Linked DNA regions of Homo sapiens: region 1 is linked to region 2. Evidence: fine-mapped QTL for protein levels in blood plasma. A gene starts in region 2. The other region holds a variant in brackets. All regions are shown on one strand. Distances are from middle to middle.

Region 1 (8,337 bases), 330 kb before region 2:
TGTGTACTATGTGTAAAAATTCATCAAACTGAATATGTCAAATGGTGATGCTGCTTTGGAAAACAGTTTGGCAGTTCCTCAAAAATGGAACATGGAGGCCGGGCGTGGTGGCTCACGCCTGTAATCCTAGAACTTTGGGAGGCCGAGGTGGGTGGATCACCTGAGGTTAGGAGTTCGAGACCAGCCTGGCCAACAGGGTGAAACCCCGTCTCTACTAAAAATACAAAAATTAGCCAGGCATGGTGGTGAGCACCTGTAATTCTAGTTACTTGGGAGGCTGAGGCAGGAGAATCACTGGAAACCGGGAGGTGGAGGCTGCAGTGAGCCGAGATCAAGCCACTGCACTCCAGCCTGGGCAACAATGCCAGACTCCATCTCAAAAAAAAAAAAAAAAAAAAAAAAGGAGGGGTAATCTATAGACTAAAACAGACTAAAAAGTTATATCAGCCAGTTTCAACATCTGCATCTCATTTGTACCCTGATTCAAATTCTTTTTTTTTTTTTAGACAGAGTTTCACTCTTGTTGCCCAGGCTGGAGTGCAATGGCGCCATCTCAGCTTACTGCAACCTCTGCCTTCCGCATTCAAGTGATTCTCCTGCCTCAGCCTCCCAAGTAACTGGGATTAGAGGCACTTACCACCACGCTCGGCTAATTTTTGTATTTTTAGTAGAGATGGGGTTTCACCCTGTTGGCCAGGCTGGTCTCGAACTCCTGGCCTCAGGTGATCCACCTGCCTTGGCCTCACAAAGTGCTGGGATTACAGGCATGAGCCACTGTGCCTGGCTCAAATTCTTTTTAATAATTCACACAGGACAGTTTTAAGACAATTGGGAAATTTAAATTCTAGGAATTATTGCTAGTTTTGCTGTGCAGTAGAATGGTGGTTATGATACCCAAGAAGTTCTTTTCGAGTGATCTGCTAAAACATTCACAGATAAAATAGTATGATATCTGGTATTTGACTGAAAATAATAGAAGATGGAGTGAACTGATGGGTGTGGGGATGGGGCTGGGTTAAGCCATTGCTGGGGCAGGAGAGTGGGTAGGTTTGTAGTAGTTCATGATACTATCCTGTCTACTTTTGTGTATGTTCGAGTCTCCAAAGTTAATAAAGCTAAAACAAAGATATATATAGATCAAAAAATATATATGATGTATAACAAAGTATTTCTCCAGAGAAACAAATATAAACAAAATGGAACAGATTGAGAATCCATAATTATGTAAGAACAAGATCTTTCTCATCTCAGCCAGTTTTTCCATAACTAGGTTTTTTGGCAATGTGTGTTTCACAAGCTGGGACTCTCAACTCCTAATCCAGAAAATTAAGCAGAAACTTACAGATTACTAAAACCCAAGGAGAAAGAGTTGGATGCAGAAAAATTTATGGAAGATTCTGGGTCAGAAATGAGCAAGTGTTCACACCAGAAGGTCCTCTACTGAAGGCATGAGCCAGGCTGCAGACGTGCTGGTGACTGAATTGGATATGAAAATAGCATATCTGTCTGGCATCCTCCTTCCTCACAGAATTGGATGGCAGATCCCTGGTTCTCAGGACCATTGAACATTAAAACCACCTGGGGGCTGGGCACAGTGGCGCACACCTGTGATCCCAGCACCTTGGGAGGCCGAGGCGGGTGGATCGCTTCAACTCAGGAGTTTGAGACCAGCCTGGGCAAGATGGGGAAACTCCATCTCTACAAAACAAACAAACAAACAAACAAACAAACAAACATCCCACCTGAGGAGCTCTGAAAACATACAGATGCCCAGGCCCATCCTGGACCAATTAGATTGAGATCTCTGCAGGAGGGAGGCCTGGGGTTTCAGTGGTTTCAAATGCTCCTCGGGTGATTCTAACCTGCAGCCAGAGTTGAGACTTGTGGTGTTAGGACAGGCAAGATTGGGATTTAAGCTGGTGTGCCCATATTTAAAAACAGCTGGGTGAACGAGCTGGGAAATGGTGGCAGCCATGGCTGCCAACTCAATGACAAATTGAGTTGATAGGTGAGACACTGGGTGTCACCTTTAATCTGTTTGCTGTGAGTCACCTGAGGTCATTTGGAGCCACTGTGTCCAACCTGAGTCACTTCTCTCTGGGACTCTGGGGTGTGGCTAAGATCCTAGTAGGCCGAAGGTTGGCTGCTTTGGACTGAGCTGTGGGCTTCTATGCTGCAGGCTTTGGCAAGCGCATATCAAGTACAAGCGTAAACAGCTGGTCAGCAGAAGACACAGTCTGGATAAAGCTGGGGAGGGAAGAGTTGTGGAGTGCACGAAGATTGGCCTCCTGCTTCATGCTGGGCTGTGAGTCAACCCAAAGTAACACTCAGCAGCTGAACAGGCAGTGCCAAGCCCAGATTCCATCTCCACAGCAATGAGATTCCTCCCCCAGCATCCGTGTCTAGCGCTGAATAGTGTGACTTTCATCCCTGCCACAGCAGAAAGTCAAACTGGCTAATTGGCAGGGAACAGAGAGATTTAAAGCAAACGCGTCAGGAGCCACTGATCCCCGACGACTGTGGGGAGGGGAGACACGTAGTTTCTAAGCAATCGCGACACGTTATGGGAAACTGTGATTCAAGTTTCCCAAATTCTATTCTCAGGTATTAGCTGTGGCACAGAGCAAGGCCCCCTTCCCTGCAACTTCCTTGCCACTCAGGTCGGTGGGAGGGACAGCTCGAAGCTAGGATGAGTGTTGCTTAACCTTTTGCCTGTCCAACAGGAGCCAATCACTTCCAGGACATCTTGATCCAGAGGGAAGGCACCTGCCCCCAACACGGGGTTTGTGGCTGAGCTGGCCTTGCGTCATGCCCGCCTGCTCCAGGTGTGACTTGCACTTTGACCTTCTCTTTGCCTGAGCCCCACCAGTTTACCTGTTCTGACCACTGACCAGCTCAGCACTGCTCACAGTGCCCCAGCATTGGGGTCCCTCTTGCTTGGCCTCTTTCAGAAACTTCCCTTCTCAGGCGGCCTTTTCAGGTGTGGCCTGGGACCTCTGCCTCTCTGCCTCTGGCCCCAGAGGTCCCGGCCTCACTTATCTGCTGCCAGAAAATGAGAAGGCAAGGCTCTGTAACCAATCAATCGGCCAGCCGGCCAAGGAAATATTGAAGACTCATAAAGAGCTTTGAGAGAGACGTATTTGGGAAGCGCTATCTGTAGGAGGCGGA[G/A]TGCTCTGGGTGTGAGGGGGAGATGCAGGGGCTATGGACTCAGGACTGATTCTTGAAGGAGGTGGGGCTAGGATGAGGTGAGAAGGATGAGCATATTAATTTGGTGGTGAGAAGAGGTGGGACAGGGTGGCTGAGTGTGTGGGGACCAGAGAAGAGGCAGGAGTGAGTGCGTGCTGAGAACACTCGTGGGTGGGGTGATACCCCCAAATACTTAACCATGGGCCCTGACCCACCAGAATCTGTGCCAGGTAGGACCCTTAGCTGCTAGGTTGTGGGGACACCTGGCCAGTCCTGGGAAAGGACCAGGAGAATGATGGGCAGGTGGCCACTGGGTCGGAGGTGGGGGCAGCTCAGGGCAGCAGCTGTTTACCAACCAGTATGGAAGTGGTTCAATATTTTATTAACTATAAAGGACCCTAAAGAGTGTGCAGTAACAGAATCCTCACCATGCCCGTGGGATGGGGCAGCGACATGGCCGCAACACCCCACCATGAGATGTGAGCTCAGCACTCAGACACTCTGAGGGGATGAGCTGTGTACTTGTCTGCAGGAGGACACAGTCATGAGTCAGAAGCTGCTGTTTTCCTTCCTTGGAAAGGAAGGTACGTTCCAGCATAGTGCAGGGGGCCCCTCAGGCCACCCCAGGCTTAGGGGAAGCTGAGCTGCCTCTATCCTTGCCCAGCCATTCCCAGCTTCCCCCTCTGCAGCCCTGGCCCCACCTGGGCGTGGCTCCCACAGCGGTGTGGGATAGAGAGGCTCTCAGGCTCCCCTGTGAGTCTGACTCCAATTCCTGTTGGTCTTGTAAAGTCAGAAGAAATCCCAGTGATGACAAGAGTATAAAACAAGACTTGTCAAACTTCATTTTGAGCCAGGAAAATCACAGGATTGTCATCGGGACAGGGGTTGTTGTTGTGACCTCTGTAGTTGGTCTGGCTGCTGCATAGTCGCTCTCGCTGAAAGCCACAAGACTTTGCTGGAAGGAAAGCCTTCCTCCCTCGATATGGAGGGCTCCGAGCTTCACAGGCAACCGCAAGGATCTGGCATGTGTCACACAGCAATGCTTCGACAGGCCAGGAATCCCACCTTCAGGGACCCCCAACAGAAGAAGAATCCCAAGTGCTGACACTGTAGAGCAGACGTCAGCTGCAAGCTCAGCACAGCCACTGCAGTGAGAGGTCTTGGTGGAAGCGACAGAGCTGACCTGGCTGACTCGTGCAGGCAATGGACATGGGGAAATATGTGCAGAACTTATCAGTCGGAAGGCTGGAGAACCGCATGGGGAAAATGGGCAGGTATCAAGGCGGCTGGCAGCAGGAGATGCAGGCGAGGCCAAGCTGTGGCCAGGCTGTGGTGAGGATACCGTGGCCGGGACTGCTGCCACAGGACACAGGATGCTACTCTCACAGATGGTCTCCTGGCCTAGCTGCCATGGCCAAAAATAAGTTCTCTTCTGTTCCTGCACCCTAGCCTTCAAAGCCCCACTGGGCTGGGCAGGATAGGAAGGCTGTGACCTCTGCAGGGGTGGGGGACAAGAGGGACACCTGGTTCCTTCCATTCCTTCCATTTCCAGAGGGGCTGATGGATTCCTGCCAAGAGTCACCGGGGAATCCTCCCAAATAGAATGGATGCTGGAAGCTGGACCGCCAAAACAAACAGAACAATAGCAACAAATGCCCATTATATATTGGGGAAGCAATTGTGTCGATGGAAACAATAGAACGAGCTAGTTTTGTCTTTAAACCTAGGAAATAAGGCCAGGCATGGTGGCTCATGCCTGTAATCCCAGCACTATAGGGGGCTGAGGAGGGTGGATCACTTGAGGTCAGGAGTTCGAGACCAGGCTGGCCAACATGGTGAAACCCGGTCTCCACTAAAAATACAAAAATTAGCCAGGTGTGGTGGTGCACACCTGTAATCCCAGCTACTCAGAAGGCTGAGGCAGGAGAATCGCTTGAACCCGGGAGGCAGAGGTTGCAGTGAGTTGAGATCACGCCATTGCATTCCAGCCTGGGCGACAGAGAAAGAGTCCATCTCAAAACGAAAACAAAAACAAAAAACACCAAAAAAACAAATAAATCTAGGAAATAGATGAATAACATCACCTCCCAGGTGAATAAGAGAGCAAAAGACTCTGTGGGTTCATCCTCTCATTCCTCAGGGGAACCATTTCCAAATGAGACATGTACACAGGCAATACCTGCAGGGCGAGCTGCATTCTACATAGACATTCAAAACCGTCTCAATTCAAAACCGTCTCGATTCAGAGGAGTGCAGCTCCTATCTCATGCAGACAGAGAGGGTGGGGTGACTGCATCAGAGGTCTGGTCAGGACTTGAGAGATACAGTGAAATTTGATTGTGGCTGGTGGATGAAGTAAGGTTTGATAGAAATAGAATGGCCCATGCATGTCCTCTGGGGACCCACGGACACCCTGAAATTGTATGCAAAATGTTGCGTGTGTGTTCATGTACTTTTTCTGGAACAAGGTGACAGCCTTTATTGAATCCTCAAACAAAAACAAGCACTGCTCTAGAATAATATTTCCTAAACACACTCATCACCCGACACCCCAAGGCTTGACAGGATGCTCTAAAGTATCCATTTCTGTCCTCATCCGTTCACATGCAGCATTTAATCCCACTTCCCAGCCTTCTGCCCTCTTCTCCTGTCTCCTCTCCATGCTTAACACGCCAGCCCCAGATGCTCCTCCTTGCCACCCAGGGCCTGAGTCATACATCCATCTGCTGAGCTAAATATCTCTACTTGGATGTTTAAAAGGCACCTCAGCCTGAATTCATTCCAACTAGAACTCTTGATTCACACCCCCACGGAAAAACCCCATTCCTCCCCCGGGCTCATCTAGCTCAGTTCACGGCATTTCTCTTTCTGTAAAGCCGGGGAAGTGTGCAGTGGTGAAGTGCTGGGTCCAAATTCCAGCTTTTCCATTTGCTAATGGTGGGACTTTATGCAAACTGATTCAACTCTCTGGGCCTCGATTGCCTCTTCTGTAAAATGTGGGAAGAACTAATTCCTAATTCATAGGAGTGTTATGAAATCTAGACAGGTTAAACTATGTGAAGGGTTTAGAGGAGCGCCTGGCTAACCGTATTAGCCACTGTCATTCTTTTTCTTCCAGTTGCTCAGGACAAATCCTAAGAATGATGCTTATTTCTCTCTTTCCCTCATGCACCACACCCAAGCTCATCAGCAATTCCTGTCCATTCCACCTTCAGATACAGATCACAAATCTGACCTCCTCTCCCCATCTCTGTTGCTACCCTACTCGCCTGGGCCGCATGGTCACTTGTGGTGGTCTCCTAACTGCTCCCCTTGTGTCTACCATGGCCATCATCCCCACACCAGCTCTCCAGGTGGCAGCCAGAGTGATCTTACAAAACCGTAGGTCAGGTCATTGCCCCCTGTCAGACTCAAGCCCATCACAGCCCTTGCTATGCTGACAGGCCCATCCCACCCCAGCCCGCTCCCCCCACCACCTGCCCCCCTCCGCCACCTCACCTGTGCCTTCTGCACGCCTCTCCCACCACTCCCCCTCCCTCCCTTTACTCTGGCCACTCTGAATGTCACTGGTCCTCCTTGAGCCCTCCTGAGCCCTCTGCCCAGAGTAATGCCAGAGTGGAGGCCACAGCTGAAGGCAGAGGCTGTTGGCCTGGGGTGGAGAGGGGAGATTCCTCTGGGTGGAAGGTGACATTGGGCAGCCTTGGATGAAGTGAATACCTGGTGTGGGGAAGCAAAAATAAATAGAGAAACAAACGGATTAATTTTGCTTCTTTCCAGGGACTTGATTTTCTACAAGTGCTGCTCCAAGAGGCTTCTACACCCCCGCAGGGAGGCAAGCACCGTTTTGAGGTGGCCGGGCTGGCGAGGAGGTGCAGACCCCAGCCAGCTGGAGGGGCTCTGCCCTGATGGCGTTCCCACTCCCACCTCATTCGCAGGGCGCCGGGGAGGGCTGCAGGTGTTCTATTCCCACCCGGCTTGCAGCGCAAGGAGGGGAATCGCCTGACACCTTCCCCTTCTCCTCTGCCCCGCTTCCTTTCTCTGCTCCCACAGGTGGAAGTCACCAGCGGAAACAACCCTTCACTGTATGGAGGGCTGGGAGAGAGGGGCCAAGAGGGCCCCGGGAGAGCCACTGGGCGGCAGGCAAGGGGCGGGGCAGTCTCCCTTCCGGCTTCCGGGACCGAAGGGTGAAGGGCAAGGGGAGCTCAGGGAATGAACGAGTGCTCCCGACTAATGTTTAACCCACGACTCCGAGACTCCGACTGGTCACAGTCCTGCAGACCTCCAGGTCCTGCACAGGCGACGCAGCGCTCCACTGGCCCGGAATGCGCACCCCGGGGGAAATGGAAAGTGCCATTGAAATGTCAGATGTCACCGTCTTCATCAGCACTCTTGGAATTTTGGCCAAAGTGGCTTCTTCTTTTGCTGAGACTTGACTCACTCCCGGCAGAGGGATGATAGCGGCCTTGCCCCGAGCGTTTATCCGGCTGCAGGCGTCATTCTTGGTCGCCTGTGTGTCCAGAGCCCCAGCGCAGGAAGGGAGCGCAATTCCCACCGCGCCCGCTGGGTGGCGCTAGCGCCGCACCGTGTCCCGGGATGAGGGGAAACCGCGCTGCCCAGTCAGTACCCCGACGCCCCCGCGCCCCCGCCGGGCCCCGCGCGCTGCAGCCACCGCCTCTTCTCGGCTTCCTCTTGCTTTACAGTAACTCTCCTCCTGGGGAAAAGGCTTTTCACGGAGCAGGCTCGGAGCCTACGGGGCTGGCCTCGGACTGGATGGGGGTAAGGACGGGTGGCGGCGCTCGCGCCGAGCGAACGGAGGGCTCAGGCGGCCGGTGATCAGGGACGGGCTGCGGCCGCCGTCTGGGGTGAGAGGCCCACCCAGAGCTCTGGGCCAGGGCTCGCGGCTCTCGTGCAGATGCTGGGCCGGGAGGTGTGGGGAGGGGGCTTCCCAGGCGGGGCAACCGGAGGGGAATGGGGTGTGCAGGAGGGAGGGGAGGCGTGGAGCGCCCGGCCTGCAGGCACTGGGCGGCGCTCTCCAGCCTCCTCTTCTCCCGCCGGGTGCCTGGTGGCTTGGCCTCCCCTCCAGAGCTTCGCATATCCTGGCGGGAGCCGGCGCTCTCTCTCCATACTTAGGACTTGACCCTTATTCCACAC
Region 2 (8,327 bases):
AGTTATCTGTGTAATTTGGGGTTCAGATTAAATGCCTGCCTTAAGACAGCGTCAGTAAGAACTGAGGCTTAATGAAGTCCTGCACTTCCCATAGCATGCAACAACAAAAAAGAGAGATGACAGTATTTCAGATCCACTGTTGCTTGGAAATTTTGTTAGAATTTCTTGTAAAATATGTGTTTAACAGAAATCCTGCCAGCATTTACAGTTTTAAATCTTTAAGGAAAGGACACAAAAGCAAAGTTGGAAAAAATTTTAGCTTTACCATTATTTGCTTGTTCAAGATTCTTAACCATTAATATCTTTAATTTTTACAAGGCTAAAGGAGCCCCAAATCTAACAAACTTAAGTGTCTTTGGTTTAAGGCATACTATTGGTAACGAGTAATTTTATCTTTAATAGTTTTTATAATGCATGTAAAAAAAGCTCCCAGATAGAATATTGAAGGAAACCTCTTATGTGTGCTTAACAAAATTATTTCTACCTAAAATATTACATATTTTTGGCCTTTTAGTCATGAATTTAATTACATCTTCTGGGTTCTTATTTTCTATTGTTAATACCACTTACATAATGCTTTTGTGTGTATATCAATAACTTAGCTTTTCCAAGTGATTCCATTTGTAGCAAGTTTAATTTCTGTCATCCAAATTAAATTACTATTACATGTAAGCCTGGAAAGCTATTTAAAATTTTGAGTTGGAACAAGAAATGCCATAGATTAATCTTAAATCTGTACAAGAATTTCTGCTTAATATTTGGTTATACTGTAATTGAGATTTTGTTGCAAAGACTTTCAACTATTTTTGTATCTTAGCTTTGTTTTATGACTACACTGAGAAATCCAACAGTTTATGTATATCTTCAGCACACACACTGTGGCTGCAGGAAGAGAAACTAATTGTGTTCACGACTATTTAGTTTGTATTCCTTTGTTTTTAATCATTGTGCTGTAAGCCTTATACATTTAATCTGTTACTTGTTAAAATTTCTTTCTACTGTCACTAAAGCACTTGTTTTCAGAAACCCAGCATGGCATGCATGTATCAGTCTGTAATCATATACACTAAACATCATTAAATTGAACCTCAAATAATGCATTAACCATTGCACAGTACTTAATGTTTTTATGTCAAGTTGCAAGATAAAACCTTTTTCAGATGAGATAAACTGTAGTATATTCCAAAGGTCTTTGTTTAGTAAAAGATTCTGAAATTTCTACTACAAATATAAAATAGTTATGCATTTGCTATACATAATATTTTTAAATAAAAGAAATATTAAATACCTTTTTGTGTCTGTTGATTCAGTGAATCCAGAAACTTGCTGCCCTTATTCTTGATTTTAAAAATCAGTGTAGAAGTTTGTTCATCTGTGACTTTAATGGCAGCTGCATTTTTGTTTTGGACCGTTGAATCCAAGCTGTAAGAAGGAACTTCTTTTTCCTTTTACAATACTAATCAATTGAATTTGACAAGCCACCTATGTAATTTTAAGTAGTATAGTGGAAGTTCTGGTCTGTGGGCCGTCTTTAATCCAGCAGAGAAAGCGTTGTGGCTTTGCTCTGTCTGCCACATGGAGAAATGCAGTAACCAGCTGCAGCTGACCCAGATTGTATATACAGTACCCCTGAATAGTGATTCCCTCTTTCTCAGTAGACTCAAGTTCAGCCCACATATTACATCACCAAAAATTGCTGGAGACTGGGGGCGGGAATCTCCTTAGGATTTCCTCTTTGTAGCCTTAAATAGGGGGGTGGGATCAGCAGGAGGTTGAATAGTTTTGAACAAGGAGAGATTGTGTGCAGGTTGAAGGAAGGGCACCATCTGGAAACAAACTATCATAGTTCAGCGGGCAATTATAAAACAAACATTTTAGTCTGCTGGCCAGAGATCTTTTAAGTTGAATACCGAAAAAAAAAATAGTGCTCCACTTCACTTAGAAGTAGTTGCAGGCTGATGAGTTTGGTTTTTGTTAACAAAGAACAAGAGCTAGACTTTGTCAGGAGGCAGCCACCTAAATAATGTAATAAATACTCTTTATAGCCTAGAAGAATTTGTAAACATTTTACTAAGTTGCTAATGAAGGTTTTAAACTTACAAGAAACTTGATGTTGTTGTAGTATGTTATGTCTTACTGTGTAATGTGTCTTAAGATAAAACAGCCTTTATATATAATTACCAAACATAAGTGAAATTCTTTCAGATGCTTAAGACTTTTAAATATTACATTCTGGTGTTACATAATGTCATATCCTCCTATTCTACAAAATGACCTCTCCTCTCTGTAAAAGGTCATTCTTGTTATTAATTGATGTGGTGTGGTTTAAAAACAAACATAACCCTGAACTGAGTAAAAAACAAGGAAGCTCTGACTCTATGCCAGCTATGTGAACTTAGACAAATCACTTTACCTGCCTCTGGCAAGGTTCTTCTGCTATGAAATAAGGTGGTGGAAGAAATGAATAAGTGTTGAGTACAACTATACTATTGTATTTCATTAATTGAAGAAATGTTAAATAACTCAGTAGCTGAAGAAACACAAACTTAGGCTTAAGTAACTTAGCTTAGCACTTAAGTACTAAGTAGTGGAACTGGGATTTGAATCTAATGCCAAAGCATTATGCCACACTCTCTGTCATTGATTACCTAGTTGCTGTAAGCTGCTTCTAGATAAAACTTTTGGGCTTTCTCTACATACCTGTGCTTTCCCTTCCTTATTGCTGTAGCTTGTGCTGTGTTTCTCTTTCTGTTAGGCCACACTGTTGATCCACATCCTTTATTTAAAGTCTGAGCTTATTTTCTACCTCTTTCACAGAATCATTTATTTGAATTCCTATGCCATATATAGGTATACCAGAGGTTGCAAACACAAGGGCCTAGAAAGGCAAATGCTCACAAGAAGAATGGAGCAGGTAATATAAATCAGTGAAGTAAATCAGTAGTAAGATACTGGAGGGAAATGAAGTTTATGGCAAGTTGGCATCCTTTTGGTTAATTTAAAGGGATCTGCCTGCACCTTCTCAGCTGTGCTTGTGGCCATGAAGGATTATGAGACAGTGTTGCCAGATCTTCCCATTATTCAGGAAAAAAGAGCCATTTAGATTTTTCCTGTAATACTTCCTGATTTTAAAAAACATTGGGACAGATGTGCTGCCAGCTTCTGGCCTCTGATTTGTATTATGTATCGTTTCTTGAGCATTCAGTAATTATGTTGTAGTCACTAATGGCTTAAATCTGGGAAAAATAAGAGATAATAAATTCTTTCTGAGCTTTTAAACTTTCAGCAGTTTGGAGCTTTCTAACTTGAGCACTTAGTAATATCACTAGCCAGGGTAGGAAATTGGAATGACAGGTATTTAGGGACAGATTATGGTTAGATATGTTAAATTGAAAATGAAAGTCAGGAGCTCAGTTATATGGAGAGATTTGAAAGTCACCAGCAATTAGGTAGTAGCTAAAGCTATGGAACTAAGATACTAGAGAAAGTACATGTAGAATGTAAAGGAAGGTTAATGACAGACCATGATACCAATTTCCAGGAAACCAGCTTACAAGAAACATGAGGAAAAAGAAGAATGGTGGGGGCTTAGGGGGAAGATACGAAAGTTCAAGGTAGGGAAAACCTGAGAACTAGACGAGAATGGTTACAATACTGCAGAGACATTACATAGGGAGGGGAGACCAAGAGAGATGTTTTAAGACTTAGAATGAGAAAGTTATTAATGCCATTGCCAAAATAAGTGATACATACAGATTTCAGATTATTTAGTGTGTTGAAGGGTGACTAGATAAAATTTAACTGACAAATTAGTGTCCACAATACATTAAGAAATTAGAAATCCATAAGAAAAAGACAACCCAAAAGAAAAAATGAACAGAAACATTTATTACATAGAAATATATACGTTTAACCTTATTACTAATCAAGGAAATAAAAATTAAGACACAGAGAGATACCATTTTATACTCAGAAGATTGGCAAAATTGAGATGGATAATACCAATTGTTAGCACAAATGTGGATCAACAGAAGCTTATATACCGTGAGTGGGAGTATGAATTGATACAGCTTTGAAAAATAATGTGACACCATCTTGTAAAGTTGAATATTAATATACTTTAGCACTTGGCAGTTTTGCTCCTAGGCATGTTTGTATATCCTGAAGAAATTTTGTACATGTGTACTGGGAGATGTGTATAAGAATGTCTATAGCAACATGGTTGGGGGTGGGATGGGAGTAACTCAAAAGTCTATCAAATAAAATGGATGAGTTACAATTGTCACACATTAGCTTGTTCTCATTATAAGGAATTACAGCAGCATTTAACAGCGTGGACAAGTCTTAGAAACAAAATAGACGAAGCAACCACAGAAGACCATATTTTTAAATTTTATTTAATAAATGCTTATAAATCACTTGGTATGTACTAGACACTTTTTTTTTGAGACGGAGTCTTGCTCTGTCACCCAAGCGGGAGTGCAGTGGTACGATCTCGGCTCACTACAAGCTCCGCCTCCTGGGTTCTCGCCATTCTCCTGCCTCAGCCTCCCATACTAGACACTTTTCTAACATTACAAATACTATTATTTAATCCACACATACAATAAAATATGATTTTTAAAGCTCAAAAATAGGCAAAAGTAGGAATACAGACAAATGTCGGGGAAAAAATAAGGGAATGATCTTAAAGTTCAAGGTAATGGTTACTTCTGGACAGGAAGCAAGGAGATGAAGTAGAGAAGGAACATACAGATAGATGCAACAGTATTGATGATGTCGTAGTTCTTTTTTAAAGTAGTTTACCCCAACATATTAAAATATTAACATGTAACCAATAAAAAAGTTAATAGATATTTTACATTAATTTTTCATGTTAACTCTTCAAAATCTTGTCTATTTTATATTCAAATACACCTCAATTCAGAATAGACCCACGAAACAGTAGTCACATGTGGCAAGTGGTTATATTGGACAGCACAGTATAGCGAGTGACTACAGGCGAGTTGTCATCTGAGTTTAATAAGATGGAAGAATGGCAAGAACTGGCACATTAGTACCCCGCTCAAATCCCACTTCTTCCTTGAAGCTTTCTCTGATCCCATCAGCAAGGAATGACATTTTTTTGCACAGAATTCTTATGAAACTCCTGTTTAAACTTTTCTGTGCTACTTTTTTATATCTTCTATTGCTGTTATTGATGTACATATGCCAACATCCCCGTGCCATTTCCTTGAGGAATCTTTTAGCTCTCCTTAGGGATGTTGTAGTCATAAGTTGACTGGTCTTTCACAAATGTTTATTATGTTGTTTGATAACAACAAGTGTCACATGTGTTGATAATTTTTTCTTAGGGCAGGAGTCTCACCATGTTGCCCAGACTGGTCTCAAACTCCTAAGCAGTCTGCCCGCCTCAGCCTCCCGAAGTGCTGAGATTACAGGCATGAGCCACCGTTCCCGGCAATAATTTTTGTGAAATCACGATTCTCACACAAATATGAAATGAATATGTGTCAGAATTTTCATTTAAATTATTAAATTTATAAGGGAATCAAAAATGTGTCAAGGGAGAATTCAAAGTAACACACATATATGCAATCAGGAACGCTGAAGTAAATTTACAAATAGTTGCAAAATTGGTCATCACTGATTAGATCCCACTGGACATAATTCTTTGGCATGTTTATGGACAATAATTTGTATTACCAGTTTTCAACAGCTGTGCAGAGTTGTAAAATAGCTCAGAAGGACCAAATGGGTGCACTGGAGACAGGATACCCAGTAATCTTTTTTCCCATCTCAAAGTTTTTCACAATTTTCCTGACACATGTGTATCAAATATTACATTAAAAATAGAACGAAGAATAAAAGAAGTGTACTATTGTATGTTTCTCTTCCAAGGTGTTTGTTGAAGGGAGGACAAGGATGTTATCTTGAGGCGTGGGATCAGATTTGAAGGAAGAGTTGCTTAGATTTTGTTTTATAAGTAGGGGAGATTTAAACATGTATATTGGGCCAGGTGCAGTGGCTCATGCCTGTAATCCTAGCACTTTGGGAGGCTGAGGCGGGTGGATCACTTGAGACCAGGAGTTCGAGACCAGCCTGGCCAACATGGTGAAACCCCATCTCTACTAAAAATGCAAGAACTACCCAGGCGTGGTTGCGCATGCCTGTCATCTCAGCTATTCGGGTGGCTGAGGCACAAGAATCACTTGAACCCAGAAGGCAGAGGTGGCAGTGAGCCGAGATCGCACCACTGCATTCCAGCCTGTGACAGAGCAAGACTCTTTCTTGAAAAAAAAAATGGTTTAAAAAAAAATATGTATACTGGCTCTGGGGAAGGAGCCAGTAGGGGTGAATGATAGTAGAGGCAACAGTGGTTGTCTGGAAGGAGGCAGCAACGATTGCATTCAAAATTACAGTTGAGATTTCGGAAGAAGAGAGAGATGATTCTTCCTCCAAGATTGGGGAAAGTGGGAAGAACCTCAGCTTCATTTGGAACCTCAAGATTCATTTGGAGTCATAGGGAAATAAAGTTGAGGTTATCTAAAGAAAAAAAAGTATGATAGGTGACTTAAAGAATACTGTAAAGATTTACTGAGTGGAAAATGAATGATACTAGGATGAGTAAAAAGATTGCCATGCCAACCTTTTATGTTAAGCACCTATTGTCAAAACATTGCACAAGATTTTCTTTCTCTTGGAGTGCAAGATAGAGCAACTGCCTTAAATGAGTTTGCAGTCTTGAATAGATAAGATATAAATGTAAAAAAAATAAGTAATGAGATTTTGAAGTCATAAAAGTCATTAAGTGAATAGTAAGCACACATAATGTATGATTTTTTAATAGAATATAAGTAATTTTTTTTTAAATTGGGCTATAAGTGAAACGTCTGAGATCCAGCTGTCACTAACAGGTTGCATGGCATTAGACAGGTCCCTTTACTATCTATGTATTTCAGGTTCTTCATCTATAAAAGGAGAGGATTAGACTAGACAGTGTCTGAATTCCTTTCTTGGAATCTGTGAGAAAACTAGAGAATATTGACACCGAATTAGATAAGCAAAATATAAGATTTGGATAGGCAGAGATAAGTCCAGAAAACATTTTAGGTATAAGAAAAAGCTGAGTAAAAACAGGGTTTATTTAGAAGGCAGTGGGTATGTCATTTTGGTTGCATTTACCCTGAGAGTACATGAACATGAAGTAATGGGGTAAAAGTAGGAAGGTATGTTTTTCTTTTCTCTCCAGCTATAGTTGTCTAATACATTTCACATGTGCATTGTGAACTCTCCAGAAATAAACTTAAATAAGTGACCTTTCATGTTAAGGACTAGTACAACCAAATTTTAGAGGATGTGTTATTTTTGTTGGTACAAAAAGCATGGAGGGTAAGAAATAGTTAACTTCAATTTGTAGTCACATGAACCATTTCAGAAATTTATTTGTTGATCTTTAAAATGTAAAACATTTCTACCAGATTGAGATAATTTTCAAAGTAGTTAAGACTCAAATGATAGCTATCAACTCAAGGCAAGAGAGTAAAAACAAATATTAAATAATTTCCCTATGTCAGTCAGTGGCTGGGCTGCTGGCTAAATTAATATCTTCAAGTTGTAACACACCTTGGAAAATGGATACTTGCATAGGTTTTAAGTCTGAGGTTCTCAGTTTAAAATAACTCTCCATTATGAAACTAGTCAGAGGCAGAGCCAATTGAAGAACTCAGCTCCTTTCCATTAATTCCCATATGTGCTGGAGTTTCTAACTCTAGCCTCAAACTATACTTGAAAATGAAATCACAAGAAGACATTTACAAAATAGCATATTATTACAAAAAATTGGTATATGTCTGACCCCAACTGTATGGAAAGCTAGGCCCCAGTAACCATATGTTACCCAGGCTTCAGTGTATTAATAGCAATATATTTTAAATGTAGCGTACAGTGGAATATATCTATAAACAACCCCTTCCCCCCTTTTCTTTGTCATAGTCTCCCAACCTACAACTAAGAAAACGTTCATTTATCTAATTGTATTTCAGGTATCTATTTGTCAGATTTAACATACATCGATTCAGCATACCCATCAACTGGCAGCATTCTAGAAAATGAGCAAAGATCAAATTTAATGAATAATATCCTTCGAATAATTTCTGATTTACAGCAGTCTTGTGAATATGGTAAGTTTCTAGGGGATAATGCCAAGCCATTAAGATTGCTGTAATCCAGTGATTTATTTACACACACTGATGATCACTTTTCACACAGCAGGGGACATCAATTTCTTATTTCCATTCTAATGTAAAGGAAAATAATGCTTGTTT

Alleles and levels. Positions count from the first base shown, and alleles are read on the strand shown. Strength reflects both the effect of a copy and how common the allele is.
For the plasma level of the protein whose gene starts at base 1,625 in region 2, allele G in region 1 goes with a higher level than allele A (weak association).

What was found. PIP is the chance, under the fine-mapping model, that this variant and not a neighbour inherited with it causes the effect. The UK Biobank Pharma Proteomics Project read protein levels with antibody pairs (Olink). The fine-mapping took linkage between variants from a reference panel, not from the people measured, so its PIPs are less certain.
Region 1: its variant is fine-mapped to the plasma level of the ANGPTL1 protein (UK Biobank, PIP above 0.99).

The regions. Positions count from the first base shown.
Region 1 is chr1:178,534,924-178,543,260 of GRCh38, forward strand. It overlaps C1orf220 (chromosome 1 putative open reading frame 220), which reads left to right and starts at 7,873. Exons shown (of 3, transcript NR_033186.1): 1 at 7,873-7,962. It overlaps LOC124904460 (a long non-coding RNA gene), which reads right to left and starts at 7,722. Exons shown (of 2, transcript XR_007066748.1): 1 at 7,111-7,722; 2 at 5,640-6,903. RefSeq lists enhancers at 1,466-2,665, 7,568-7,627 and silencers at 7,678-8,007, 8,038-8,107. The variant G/A (reference allele first, on the strand shown) is at 3,169.
Region 2 is chr1:178,869,453-178,877,779 of GRCh38, forward strand. It overlaps ANGPTL1 (angiopoietin like 1), which reads right to left and starts at 1,625. Exons shown (of 6, transcript NM_004673.4): 1 at 1,289-1,625. It overlaps RALGPS2 (Ral GEF with PH domain and SH3 binding motif 2), which reads left to right. Exons shown (of 20, transcript NM_152663.5): 9 at 8,046-8,183.